Linked DNA regions of Homo sapiens. The protein of the gene in region 1 purifies or fractionates together with the protein of each later gene. This does not show direct contact. Each region holds a gene or a part of one and is shown in the gene's direction. Other genes may lie near its edges.

Region 1 (7,025 bases):
GAAAAGGATGTTTATTTGGGATAGAGCATTGCAGTGAAAATACATGCCACATGCCATAGTAGACTGTGTGGATATTCGCATATTCAGGGAGGTAAAGGAAGGCAAGGGTTTTGTTTTTTTTTTTTTTTTTGAGACGGAGGCTTGCTCTGTCACCCAGGCTGGAGTGCAATGGCACAATCTCGGCTCACTGCAACCTCCACCTCTCAGGTCCAAGCGATTCTCCTGCTTCAGCCTCCCGAGTAGCTGGGATTACAGGCGCCCACCACCACATCTGGCTAATTTTTTTTTTTTTGTATTTTTAGTAAAGTTGGGGTTTCACCATGTTGGCCAAGCTGGTCTAGAACTCCTGACCTCAGGTGATCTACCCGCCTCTGCCTTCCAAAGTGCTGGGATTACAGGCGTGAGCCACTGAGCCCCGCCTGGCAAAGGTTTTTAAAGGAAAAAAACATAATTGTTTTGAGATAATGATCCTTGGTTGCAAAGATCAATAACAAGATTAATGTCCGTCCAAGGTTAGACAGGCAGTTGCTGGGCAGATTATCCTTGCAGAAGTTTCTGTGTGCGTGTAAGGTTGTCATAGCCTTTGTGCAAGGTTGCAGTTTTGTGTGTGTGTAAGGTTGTCATAGCCTTTGTGCAAGGTTGCAGTTTCGTGTGTGTGTGTAAGGTTGTCATAGCCTTTGTGCAAGGTTGCAGTTTTGTATGTGTGTAAGGTTGTCATAGCCTTTGTTGCAGTTTTTGCCATCTTTAGTGACAGTTTTTGTTATCAGGCATGGAAGTATGAGAATCCTCTCTTCATAGCTTTCCCCAGCTCTATTTGTCAGGTTTTTTGGTTTGTTTGTATAACCCTAATGGCTCCATTTTTATTCTGACAAATTCCTTTTTTTTTTTGAGACGGAGTCTTGCTCTGTCAGCCAGGCTGAAGTGCAATGGCGCAGTCTAGGGGCTCACTGCAACCTCCGCCTCCCAGGTTCAAGCGATTCTCCTGCCTCAGCCTCCCGAGTAGCTGGGGTTACAGGCATGTGCCATCACACCTGGCTAATTTTTGTATTTTTAGTAGAGATGGGGTTTCACCATGTTGGTCAGGCTGGTGTCAAACCCCTGACCTCTTGATCTGCCCGCCTCGGCCTCCCAAAGTGCTGGGATTACAGCTGTGAGCCACCACGCCTGGCTATTCTGACAATTTTCACAATGGAAACAATTTAGGGCACTTGTGTACGGTTGGCTGGGCAACCCACCCGCCACAGGCCCAGCTGCCACTCTGGCCTGAGACATGCATCTTAAGAGTGATTTGGGTGGCTGGCACAGTGGCTCACGCCTGTAATCCCAGCACTCTGGGAGGCTGAGGCAGGCAGATCACCTGAGGTCAGGAGTTCGAGACCAGCCTGACCCATATGATGAAACCCCATCTCTACTAAAAAATACAAAAATTAGGCCAGACGCGGTGGCTCACGCCTGTAATCCCAGCACTTTCGGAGGCCAAGGCGGGTGGATCACCTGAGGTTGGGAGTTTGAGACCAGCCTGACCAACACGGAGAAACCCAGTCTCTACTAAAAATACAAAATTAGCCGGGCGTGGTGGCGCATGCCTGTAGTCCCAGCTACTCGGGAGGCTGAGGCAGGAGAATTGCTTGAACCCAGGAGGCGGACACTCCAGCCTGGGCAACAAGAGGGAAACTCTGTCTCAGGAAAAAAAAAAAAAAAAGAAATACAAAAATTAGCTGGGCACGGTGGCATGCACCTGTAATCCCAGCTACTCAGGAGGCTGAGACAGGAGAATCACTTGAACCCGGGAGGCAGAGGTTGCAGTGAGCCGAGATCGCGCCATTCCACTGCAGCCTGGGCAACAAGAGTGAAACTCCGTCTCAAAAAAAAAAAAAAAAAAAGTGATTTGGCTCAGAGATAAGTGCTTATTTGCCTTGGGATTAACCAGGATGAAACCTGTCAACCTGTGGTTGGGTTACGTTTCCTGTTCTCTAAGTCTACATTTCCTCATTTTTTAGCATCTGAAAGCAGGTGAATTTCCCCAGCCTGATTTTCCAGATGACTACAATTTGGGAGACATTTTCCTAGGAGTGGAGTATATCTTCCATCAGTGTAAAGAAAATGAAGATTACAATGACGTCCTGACTGTAAGCGGGGATGCTGAAATCATATAACCTGGCTCATGGAACATGGGCCTTGCAAAGGGGTCAAGATCACAACCCTGCATCCATGTGTGTCCGTGGGTACCGTAAGGGCTACTGGGGGAAGAACCTGTAAGCAGGGTGTGAGGAGCACCCAGGCTGGGTAGGGACTGCATGCCCCATGCCACAGTTGAAGGAGGGAGAGAACACGCTGTGAAAACACAGAAGCTCCCAGAGAAGCCTTCTCAGCTTTTATCTCTGGAGTAGAGCAGACTATGTTGAGCTAACACAGACCTGCTGAATCAGCTTCTTTCTGAGCTGCCAGAAGTACAGAAGTTGGAGCCTCCACCACCTTCCAGATCTGTTTCTCCTCAGTGTAATCCACCTATGGGTTCTTCCTGCCCACTGCACAGACAAAACCAATTCACTGCAATTGTGGTATTGCAGTAGAGAAAGAGTTTAACACAGAGCTAGCCAAGCAGAAAGGCTGGAGTTATTATTCAACTCAATCTCCCAGAGAACTCAGAGGCTACAGTTTCTACAGGCAATTTGGCAGGCAGGGGCTAGGGAATGCCTGCTGCTGATCGGCTGCAGACGGACCATGGGGTGTCAACGATTTTTGTCCCCTGAGTCCGCCTCTGCGTGGAGCCACGGGATCAGCTGAGTCATGAGTCTCAGGTCCAGGTGGAGTCTGTAGGTTGCCAGAACTCAAAAGTCTGAAAAACATCCCAAAAGACCATTCTTAGGTTGTACTATTGACGTTATCTTATTGGGGAGCAATTGGGGCGGTCACAAATCTCGTGACCTCTGGCTGCGTGAGTCCTGAGCAGTAGGGAATTACAGCAGGGCAAGCTGGGGAAGCAAGGCCTGCGGGCTGGTTCTCCTCAGGACACCTACATCTGAGCAGAATTCAGGCCCCTCCCATCATCCTAATCTTGTGGCCCTTCACAAGCTTCACAGAGGTGGCTTCGGTCTTGAGCAAGGAGGGGATTCGTTTTAGGGAGGGATGATTACTATTCTTGATTTAAAGTTAAACTCTAGATTAAATTCCTCCCGTGGTTAGCTTGGCCTGTGCCCGGGACTGAGTGGGGACAGCCACGCAAGTTAAACTCTAGATTAAATTCCTCCCGCGGTTAGCCTGACCCGTGCCCGGGACTCAGTGGGGACAGCCACGCAAGTTAAACTCTAGATTAAATTCCTCCCGCGGTTAGCCTGACCCGTGCCCGGGACTCAGTGGGGACAGCCACGCAAGTTAGACTCTAGATTAAATTCCTCCCGCGGTTAGCCTGACCCGTGCCCGGGACTCAGTGGAGTCAGCCACACAAGTTAAACTCTAGATTAAATTCCTCCCGCGGTTAGCCTGACCCGTGCCCGGGACTCAGTGGAGTCAGCCACGCAAGTTAAACTCTAGATTAAATTCCTCCCGCGGTTAGCCTGACCCGTGCCCGGGACTCAGTGGGGACAGCCACACAAGTTAGACTCTAGATTAAATTCCTCCCGCGGTTAGCCTGACCCGTGCCCGGGACTCAGTGGGGACAGCCACACAAGTTAAACTCTAGATTAAATTCCTCCCGCGGTTAGCCTGACCTGTGCCCGGGACTCAGTGGGGACAGCCACGCAAGTTAAACTCTAGATTAAATTCCTCCCGCGGTTAGCCTGACCCGTGCCCGGGACTCAGTGGAGTCAGCCACACAAGTTAAACTCTAGATTAAATTCCTCCCGCGGTTAGCCTGACCCGTGCCCGGGACTCAGTGGGGACAGCCACGCAAGTTAAACTCTAGATTAAATTCCTCCCGCGGTTAGCCTGACCCGTGCCCGGGACTCAGTGGGGACAGCCACACAAGTTAAACTCTAGATTAAATTCCTCCCGCGGTTAGCCTGACCCGTGCCCGGGACTCAGTGGAGTCAGCCACGCAAGTTAGACTCTAGATTAAATTCCTCCCGCGGTTAGCCTGACCCGTGCCCGGGACTCAGTGGAGTCAGCCACACAAGTTAGACTCTAGATTAAATTCCTCCCGCGGTTAGCCTGACCCGTGCCCGGGACTCAGTGGGGACAGCCACACAAGTTAGACTCTAGATTAAATTCCTCCCGCGGTTAGCCTGACCCGTGCCCGGGACTCAGTGGAGTCAGCCACGCAAGTTAGACTCTAGATTAAATTCCTCCCGCGGTTAGCCTGACCCGTGCCCGGGACTCAGTGGGGACAGCCACGCAAGTTAGACTCTAGATTAAATTCCTCCCGCGGTTAGCCTGACCCGTGCCCGGGACTCAGTGGAGTCAGCCACGCAAGTTAGACTCTAGATTAAATTCCTCCCGCGGTTAGCCTGACCCATGCCCGGGACTCAGTGGGGACAGCCACGCAAGTTAGACTCTAGATTAAATTCCTCCCGCGGTTAGCCTGACCCGTGCCCGGGACTCAGTGGGGACAGCCACACAAGTTAGACTCTAGATTAAATTCCTCCCGCGGTTAGCCTGACCCGTGCCCGGGACTCAGTGGAGTCAGCCACGCAAGTTAGACTCTAGATTAAATTCCTCCCGCGGTTAGCCTGACCCGTGCCCGGGACTCAGTGGAGTCAGCCACACAAGTTAGACTCTAGATTAAATTCCTCCCGCGGTTAGCCTGACCCGTGCCCGGGACTCAGTGGAGTCAGCCACACAAGTTAAACTCTAGATTAAATTCCTCCCGCGGTTAGCCTGACCTGTGCCCGGGACTCAGTGGAGTCAGCCACACAAGTTAAACTCTAGATTAAATTCCTCCCGCGGTTAGCCTGACCCGTGCCCGGGACTCAGTGGAGTCAGCCACGCAAGTTAGACTCTAGATTAAATTCCTCCCGCGGTTAGCCTGACCCGTGCCCGGGACTCAGTGGAGTCAGCCACGCAAGTTAAACTCTAGATTAAATTCCTCCCGCGGTTAGCCTGACCCGTGCCCGGGACTCAGTGGGGACAGCCACACAAGTTAAACTCTAGATTAAATTCCTCCCGCGGTTAGCCTGACCCGTGCCCGGGACTCAGTGGGGACAGCCACGCAAGTTAGACTCTAGATTAAATTCCTCCCGCGGTTAGCCTGACCCGTGCCCGGGACTCAGTGGAGTCAGCCACACAAGTTAAACTCTAGATTAAATTCCTCCCGCGGTTAGCCTGACCCGTGCCCGGGACTCAGTGGGGACAGCCACGCAAGTTAGACTCTAGATTAAATTCCTCCCGCGGTTAGCCTGACCCGTGCCCGGGACTCAGTGGAGTCAGCCACCCCAGACCTCTCTCACTGTTATCATTTTTGCACAGGTGGTTTCAGCAGCTTGATGCCAAAAAAAAAAAAAAAAAAGGAAAAGCATTCTGAAAAGCCATGTATGAGTGAATCATACTTAACTTGGCCTCCTTTGGCTGCACAGCCATGCCCTGAATCGCCCTTGTGGATCCAAGTGCATCTGTGTGGCTTGAGGCAGAGCTTCCCAGCCAGACCCAGTGTGAAAGGATGGGACGGCCACACAGGAACCTGGGCCCCAACTGCTCCCTCCAGACCTGGGTGGGACTTGCCCGCCATGCACACCCTGCTGGGGAAGAGGGAGTTTCTGAGAGTGACAGGAAGTGGCCCAGCCGGAGATTCAGCCCTGGGATCTCTGTGGCCAGCAACTGTGGGCGGGGGGGTATGTGGACATCTGCTTCCATTTTCCCCAAACCTAAGATTCTGTTCCCTGGTCTTCCCCTGGCATTTCTTCCTCGGGCCCAGAGCCCTCTCCTTGGGGCTCCCTATTACCCTGAGGGGAGGGCCAGCCCACCAGCCCAGGACCCCATCCTCATAGCCACAGGCCAGGCCAGCTCTGCTCAGGGCTGGCTCTCAGCTGCACTCTCCATCTACCCTGCCTTGTCCTCCATGTCTCCAGGCACCTCCCGCCAGCCCCAAGGATACCCACCTCCCAGACCTCCCTCTTCCCTCCACCCAAACCCCAGGGGAGTGCTACCCCTATGGCCCATGTGGCTCCATAAACCCCCTTGGTGCTGTGCCTGCTCAGGGTCCACAGGCCCTCCCTCCTCTTCCTCCTCCTCCTCCTCTTCCCCCAGCTCTGGGCTCCATCCGGGTGCCCCTCCCCTGTGGGCTTTAATCCAGCCCTCTCTCCAGGGGGACATGGCGACTGTGGGTCTTCCTGACTCACCAGCAGCTGCACCTCCCTCCGCCTCCGCCTTCATACCTCTCCCGCACTCCCTGTGCTGCCTGTGCCCCAAAGCTCTACCCAGAGTGTTCAGTAAAATCAGGGGCCACCGGAGGCCCCATCCTGACTGGGGGTTGGACCTGGGGTGTGGGCTGTGCGCTTGCCTCGTCCCTCTTAGGGCAGGGAGGCCACCCCTGGCCGGTGCCCCACTGCCCCACCACCCCGTGGCACCCACCCCTCCCCACTTCTTCATATTCCATCCCCCCTTGCCCATTGCTCCTGCGGCTGGGCAGTTCCATCCTGGGGGCCCCTCCCCAGCACAGTGCTGGCCCAGACAGCAATCCACGTTGACTAAAGACTCTCAAAGGGGCTTGCTTGCTTTCCATTTTAGATGGAAGGGAACTGAAGCTGAGTGCCTGTAATTCCTGCCCAGGGGTCTCACAGCAACCCTGGGGTCCTGCAGCCACATACCAAGAGCAGCCTGTGGCCCTGGGGTGGCCCTGAAGGGGCAGGTTCCTGTGGGGTCATCCTCTGAGCCGGTTTAAAATTATTCTGACAGGTGACGGCCACCCACGGACTCTGTCACTTGCTGGGATTCACACACGGCACGGAGGCAGAGTGGCAGCAGGTAAGGAGCCCATCCATCCCACTACCGAGGGGGTGCGTGGGGGAAGGAGGCTCCCCCAGGCCCCTGCCAGCCCCCACCCTCCATCTTGACCGCCCCCGCAGGAACTGGACCTCAGACCTGCCCTTGTA
Region 2 (7,025 bases), on another chromosome or scaffold:
TGTTTTTCTTTTTTCATTTTTTCTTGTCCCCAGAATGTCTAACAAAACAGCCAAATATACCTCTGTGAAGACAGAGGGTAAAATAATGCTAGTTCTGTGAGTTCTCTCTTCTTGTGCAAATCCATAAACTGCCACCAATCTGTAGTCATTTTAATTGCCCCTAAACCGAAGAGCATCGTGGCAACTACCTTTCCCCTCGTAAATAGAGTGACACTATCACTAGTCTTATTGAGGCCAAAGTTATAAAGATGGGCTCTCGATCTACTAATATTAGTAAAATGGGTTTGGGACTTACTAACATTTGTGCTTAGAAGAGACAGACCTGGCAAAGAGCTTGGAGAAGTGAGTTCCAAAGAGAGAGGTGTGGGAACCAGGATGGAAGAGTCAGGCCTCCAGATAGCGTTTACTTCTCCTTTCTTCCTTGAATCACTGTCTCAGAGATAATTAGGTTCAGGAGAGGAGAAAAAAAAAGATGACGTCAACGTGGAGCAGAGTTTTTCTTAGACCTTAGCCTAGCAAGGAAAGAGAAATGCCTGGTCTCAGTACTGGGAAGCTGTTCCAGCCAGAGCCCCGTGGCTGTGAAGAGAGCTCTCCTGTCTGGAACCAAACAGAAAGCTCATAGGTCTAGAGGCCAGAAAAGTTAGTAGGTGGTGGCTCTGTTCGGTGCTGGAAATGGAGGCCAGGATGAACTAAGAAGCAAACTAAAGATACTTGTAAGATAAGGACGTGTAGGCCGGGTGCGGTGGCTCACGCCTGTAATCCCAGCACTTCGGGAGGCCAAGGCGGGCGGATCACGAGGTCAGGAGATCGAGACCATCCTGGCTAACACGGTGAAACCCCGTCTCTACCAAAAAAAAAAATTAGCTGGGCGTGGTGGCGGGCACCTGTAGTCCCAGCTACTCGGGAGGCTGAGGCAGGAGAATGGTGTGAACCCGGGAGGCGGAGCGTGCAGTGAGCCGAGATTGCGCCACTGCACTCCAGCCTGGGCGACAGAGTGAGACTCTGTCTCGAAAAAAAAAAAAAAAAAGATAGGGACGTGTATGTTAACTTGCGCTATCCAAACAACAAGCTGTGCTTATGGTCCTCTGCCTGTGCGTCATGATTTTCCAGGACTTCACAACGGGATAAAGTGAAGTAGCTTCGGCTTGTGAATGTGCATTGCAGAGACGTGGGAGAAGAAAGCTGCAAAAGTCATTATAAGCAACACCCTTGATCTTAGGGGTGCTGGTCTGTGAGAAGAGAGCTCTAAGCCTTTTGTAGAGGCATTAGAAAGGTATCGGAGCCACGGTGAAATGCAGGGGAGATTGGGTTTAGGGGCTTTCCTGGTCTGCATTCTGCTACAGCCGTTAAATGCCGCTAGATGGAGTGCGTGATTCTGGTATGGCCTCACGTGGACCTGCTGCGAAGGATGGAGAGAACATGGTCTCTGCTTCCCAGAAAAAAGGAGAAATTTGGTAATAAGTGTGGAGACTGCTCTTAAATAATGCTCCAGATTTCAAGCCACTTCTTCCTGGACCATGAGAGAGCTCCCTAATGTTGTATTTATTTTTCCTAGGTCCATGGCTAATGAAACACAGAAGGTTGGTGCCATCCATTTTCCTTTTCCCTTCACACCCTATTCCATCCAGGAAGACTTCATGGCAGAGCTGTACCGGGTTTTGGAGGCTGGCAAGATTGGGATATTTGAGAGTCCAACTGGCACTGTGAGTATGAACAGTGAGAGATACTGAAAAGGACAACTTAACAGCAGCCGTACTAGCTTTTCCTGTTTGCCTATCCAGAGATTTTCATAGTTTGAAGTTGGGCAGAGTAGTCTCTGTTTATCTGAGTAATAGTCACTTCCTCTATTAAAGTCTTTTTTTTTTTTTTTTGAGACGGAGTCTCGCTGTGTCGCCCAGGCCAGAGTGCAGTGGGACGATCTCGGCTCACTGCAAGCTCCGCCTCCCGGGTTCACGCCATTCTCCTGCCTCAGCCTCTTGAGTTGCTGGGACTACAGGTGCCCGCCGCCACGCCCGGCTAATTTTTTGTAGTTTTAATAGAGACAGGGTTTCACCGTGTTAGCCAGGATGATCTCAGTCTTCTGACCTCGTGATCCGCCCGCTTCGGCCTCCCAAAGTGCTAGGATTACAGGCATGAGTCACCGTGCCCGGCCTAAAGTCTTAAACATAGCTCTGTGGTCTGAGAAAAATTAGGCTGAAGTCATTGGTGCCTACCTATTACGGTAGATGAGACGGCTTTCTTACCAACTCTTTTCCCTCCCGTTCCCCATCCTTCAAATATAATTCTAAGTTTTAGTCTCTGCTGAGTGAACCAGTGTGTTATGATTATGTTTTGAACATAATTTTGTCTTGAACAATATGTCTTAATATTCTGTTTTTTCTAGTTAATAATTGCCCTTTTAAAGTTAGTTTAGTTTTTAATATACCTATGCCAGTTCCTCCCACATCATCCAGTGGCCTCTCAATATGATTTTCCATACAGATAACTCCTGTCTTAGTCGGCCAGGACTGCCATAGTAAAATACCATAGACTGGGTGACTTAACAGGAATTTATTTTCTCACCATTCTGGAGGCTGGAAAGTTGAAGATCCAGATTCTGGCAGGGTTCTGGTTCTGGGGAGGGGGTCTCTTCCTGGCTTGCAGATGGCTGCGTTCTTACTGTGGAGCAAGAAAAGACGAGGAGGAGAAAAACAAATCTTTGGTGTCTCTTTCTCTTTTATGAGGACAAGGGCTGCTCCCTTATGGCTGCTCCGTTATGACCTCCTTTACCCTTGAAGGCCAGATCTGTAGTAGAGTCACATGGCGGGGTTAGGATTTCAACATATGTTTGTTTGTTAAGATGGGCAGTCTCACTATGTGGCCCAGGCTGGTCTCGAACTCAAGCGATCCTCCCCTCTCAGCCTCCCAAGTACCTGGTGGCTGGCAAGATCCAAGATTACTGGTGCACACCACCATACACAGCTTCTTTTGTTTTGTTTTTGTTCTTTAAAAACATTTTTTTAACATGCATTTTGGTGGGGATACAATTCAGTCCACAGCAGTGACCAATTCCATTTTTACCTTGGAGCCCTCCTGGAATCCTCCATCCTTTCCCTGTCATTTGAATTAGTTGCTCCTCAGACTGACTTGACAGATTTCAGCATGAGTGTTAATGGGGACAGACGGCCGCACCCACACCACATCAGGGTATACGTCCGTTTGGAGGCTTTCCTCAAACGTCTGGCAGCCCTGGACTGCCTGTGTATGCTGAAGAACAGGGCACAGAAAGGCTGAGTCTGCAGGGCACTGGCTGTGGCTGCCAGGCTGGGCTCCTTTGTTGGGGGCCTCCAGTTGCCAGCACATCTGTGGGATTTTCCCTAGAGTCTTCAGTCTCTCCAGAGCAGGTGCCTCTGAGCCCTGGCCCAGCAGGTACAGACGCTGAAGCCCAATAGCCGGTCTTCCGGGAGGTGGTCTGGGGAAGGGGATCCAGGTGGAGAGTCCCCCTCAGTGCCTGCTTTCAGCCTGGCCCTCCTCCCCCTCCCTCTTGCCTCCTCAATCTGCCGGTTGCCTCCAGGGCTCTCCTAGCTCAGCTTCCACTTAGAGCCCACTTCCTGTCTTCTGCAAGGAGCAGGAGCAGGGATTGCAACCTGAGAATCTAATTGTTCTTAAAAAGAATTTCAACCCGTCCCTTTGTTTTCAGTGGCCTGCTGTGTTCCTACCACTTCCTGAGTCTTTCTGAGAATGAGTGGGGGAGATCTCTGGGGACACTTGGGCTTGAGTGTCTCTGCCGAAATCACTTCCATGTCTCTGCCTTCTTTCCCTCTCTCCTAAAACATATTACTCCTTCCACTTTCTTTTTGTGGGTGTAAGCCTCCATATTACTTTGGTTAATTTTAGTGTGCTTTGGAACACAGATGAGTGCATGTTCATTCTGCCTTGTTTAATTTTAGAGACAGGGTGTTGCTCTGTTGCCCAGGGCCGAGTGCAGTGTTAAGATCATGGTTTACTGCAGCCTCAACCTTCTGGCAACAAGTGATCTTCCCACGTCAGCCTCCTGAGCAGCTGGGACTACAGGTGTGCACCATCACACCTAGCTAATTTTTTAATTTGTAGAAATGAGATCTCACTATGCTGCTCAGGCCGGTGGTCTTAAACCCCTAGGCTCAAGCAATCCTCCCTCCTTGGCCTCCCATAGTGCTGAGATTACAGGCATGAGCCACTGTACCTGACCCCTTTCACCTTGTTTAGCCTGACAACCCATCTTCTCCCTCTCAGGTCTTTCCATCTCAGTCTTCTGCACTCCAGGCTTCTGCGTCTTCTTCCTCTGCTCAGCCTTTAATTGTCGATGTTTCTGGTTCTATAGCTTCATCTTCTTGTGTGCAGTCTCTGTGAATGTACCCTGTGGCTTTATTACCTTTGACATTCTTCTGTCTTCTAAATCATCTCCTGAATAGAGTGTTTTCTCCTGTCCTGGGTGTCCCGCAGCCCATAGAAGCAGCCATGCTGTGGGACACCCTGAGTGGGGTTTGTGTTACCTGTTGTGCCTACCATGCCCTTCCCCGCCGTGGATGCACAGGTGCCCCACCTTAGCTGCCCCAGATGCTGTTTATCCTTGATAGTCACCTTTTAAGCCTTATACAGGTCTATCAAGTTGAGTCACCATTACCACTTGGTGTGTGCTGTGCCTTGTGTAATACTGCAGTTCCGGGAGTCATCCAACCTGGAATGCATGCTTTGCGGGGATCTATGATGCCCTCGAATTGTATGTTACATGTGAACCTGTGAGCATTTTCTAGGGGCTCTGCACCTTTGTGTCCTCAGCTCTGAGCCCCATGCTTGCTGCAACCAGCAGGTGTTCAGAGTGAATGAATTTGCTTATCTTGGCATAAATCATGTAACTGTTGATGATACCCCAGGAAGGTGAGCCTTTGGTTATAAATCCTTTTAACATTTTCCAGTCTAAAAGTTTTGTGGTCTTATTACACGATGTAGAAAACAGTGGGCCTCAGTTATTCTTTTGCTGTTGTGCCGGAGTATACCACGGTTGTTTTTGAAAGATAACTTTGACCATACCCTTAGGAACTTCCTCAGCTCACTTTCAAATGGAGGGCACTGGCTTTCTAACCATTGTGTCTCCCAGCCCAGTGACAGCTGAAGCTGACTGCTTCCGATATCACAGACAGCACAGAAGAGCCGCCCTCCAGGTGCTGCTGGGAAATGCTGCCTGGAACTCTTTGCCATTTACTTTCTATCAAAAGCTGAGGGAAATGGTACATATGGGGCTTTCCTAAAAATATGGGATCCATCCATTTGTCAACAATGTCATTCTATCCTATCCCAGGGCCTTTCAAGATTTTGATGAAAACTAATAGATCCCATATTCCAGAATAATGCTATTAATAATTTTATTATTATTACTTAATGATAGCAAAAAGTTAGCTAACTCCAACCGCTCACTTGTTATTTGCCAGGTAATCCTCTAATCCAGAGGATTTGGCCTTTTGTGTGTGTTAATGTCCTGCTTGCACCAGCTCTATGAGGAAGGTGCCGCTGTTGTCATTTCCATTTCTGCACTCGTGGAAACAAGCGTAGTGAGGCCAGCCTGAGCCACAGAGCTGCAGGTGGGGGAGACAGCTGGAACCCTGGCACCTGGCTGTGGAGTTTGAGACTCTGACTCCTGCGCCGCGCTGCTGCCCCAACCGTAGTCATACGAGGTGTTTCACCCCGCCCTGGATACTCTGAGATCCCCTCTGGGTTCAGCAGGCTCAGAGAGCTGACTGCCTGGAGCAGAAGGCATGGGGTCCTCCAGAGACTCCCCTGAGCTGAGTTCCCCTGTGGACACCAGGGCCGCCTCCTTGTGGCGCTCCCTGAAGGGTCCTCTCTGGAAGAACTGTATTGGTTCCCTGGGGCTGCTAGAGGAAAGCTTCACAAACTGGGGCTTAAACAACAGAAACTGACATCCCACAGCGCTGGAGGCTGGAGTCCGAGATCAAGGTGTCAGCATGCTTGGTCCCTTCTGAGGGTCGTGAGGGAAAGATCTCTTCAGGCCCCTTTCCTTGGCTTATAGGTGGCGTGTTCTCCTTGGGTATCATCACATCGCCTGCCTTCTGTGCATGTCTGCATCCACGTGTCCCCTTTCCAATAAGGATATTAGCCCTTTAGGCTGGGTCCCGTCCTAGTAGTCTCATCTTAACTAATTACATTTGCGACAGTCCTATTTCCAGATCAGGCCACATTCTGAGATGCTGGGGGTTAGGATTTCAACACAGGAATTTGGAGGAATACAACTCAATCAGGCTTATGGAAAATTCTGGTCTTAAGTCAAGGGTAGTGTTCTCCAGTCTGTATATGGAGGCGCACACCTATGGTCCCAGCCACTTGGGAGGCTGAGGCCAGAGAACTGTGTGAGCCCAGGAGTTCCATACCAGCCTGGGCAACATAGCAAGACCTCCTCTCAAAAACAGACAGAGTGGTGTCTTCCAGAGTGATTAGTTTGCTTAAAAAAAAAAAAACAAAACAAAACACAAACCGTAAGCACTGGCGCTCATGACTGATCATCCTGTATCCACGCACGAGCTGCACGAAGGCCGCGCGGTCACTCTGGCTCCCTGTTGGCGAGTACCTGGGATTTCTTGCTCAGCATTTTGGGGCCTTAATTCTTTTAGGGGACTTTTTGTCTAATGTCTCCCCTTCTTCTAATTATGTGCGATATTTACATAGAATCTGATAAACTGCTTCAAATTTGTTTTCAGAACAGTGAGCTGGATAATTAAAGAAGCTTTTTCCTGCTTCTTGGGCCCAGTTTCCATTTCTTTCTTTTTTCTGTTTTTCCTGGCTATTCTAGTGCTAATTTCCTTCCTTTCCTTTCCTAGGCTGGTCTTAGAGCATCCTCTCCTATGTACAGCCAGACCTTCTTTCAAGCTTTTATTAAAATGGGGAAAGGTCATTTGGGAGGCTTTGTTGTTTTCCTGTTTCTAAAGATCATTTTTCTTCCTGCAGGGGAAGTCCTTAAGTCTTATTTGTGGGGCCCTCTCTTGGCTCCGTGA

What was found. Proteins that work in one complex are often made in the same cells at the same time.
Region 2: the proteins of YBEY (region 1) and DDX11 purify together in Homo sapiens (affinity purification with mass spectrometry; 2 studies listed by BioGRID and IntAct, with this or other methods). This does not show direct contact.

What each region holds. Positions count from the first base shown.
Region 1 is NC_000021.9:46,289,334-46,296,358, forward strand, and holds part of YBEY (endoribonuclease YbeY), read left to right. Parts: intron 1-2,000; coding exon 2,001-2,129; coding exon of another isoform or gene 2,130-2,156; exon of another isoform or gene 2,157-3,185; intron 3,186-6,828; coding exon 6,829-6,897; intron 6,898-7,025. UniProt on the Homo sapiens protein: Single strand-specific metallo-endoribonuclease involved in rRNA maturation.
Region 2 is NC_000012.12:31,076,835-31,083,859, forward strand, and holds part of DDX11 (ATP-dependent DNA helicase DDX11), read left to right. Parts: intron 1-1,110; exon of another isoform or gene 1,111-1,350; coding exon of another isoform or gene 1,351-1,454; intron 1,455-1,555; coding exon of another isoform or gene 1,556-1,559; coding exon 1,560-1,703; intron 1,704-6,978; coding exon 6,979-7,025. UniProt on the Homo sapiens protein: DNA-dependent ATPase and ATP-dependent DNA helicase that participates in various functions in genomic stability, including DNA replication, DNA repair and heterochromatin organization as well as in ribosomal RNA synthesis.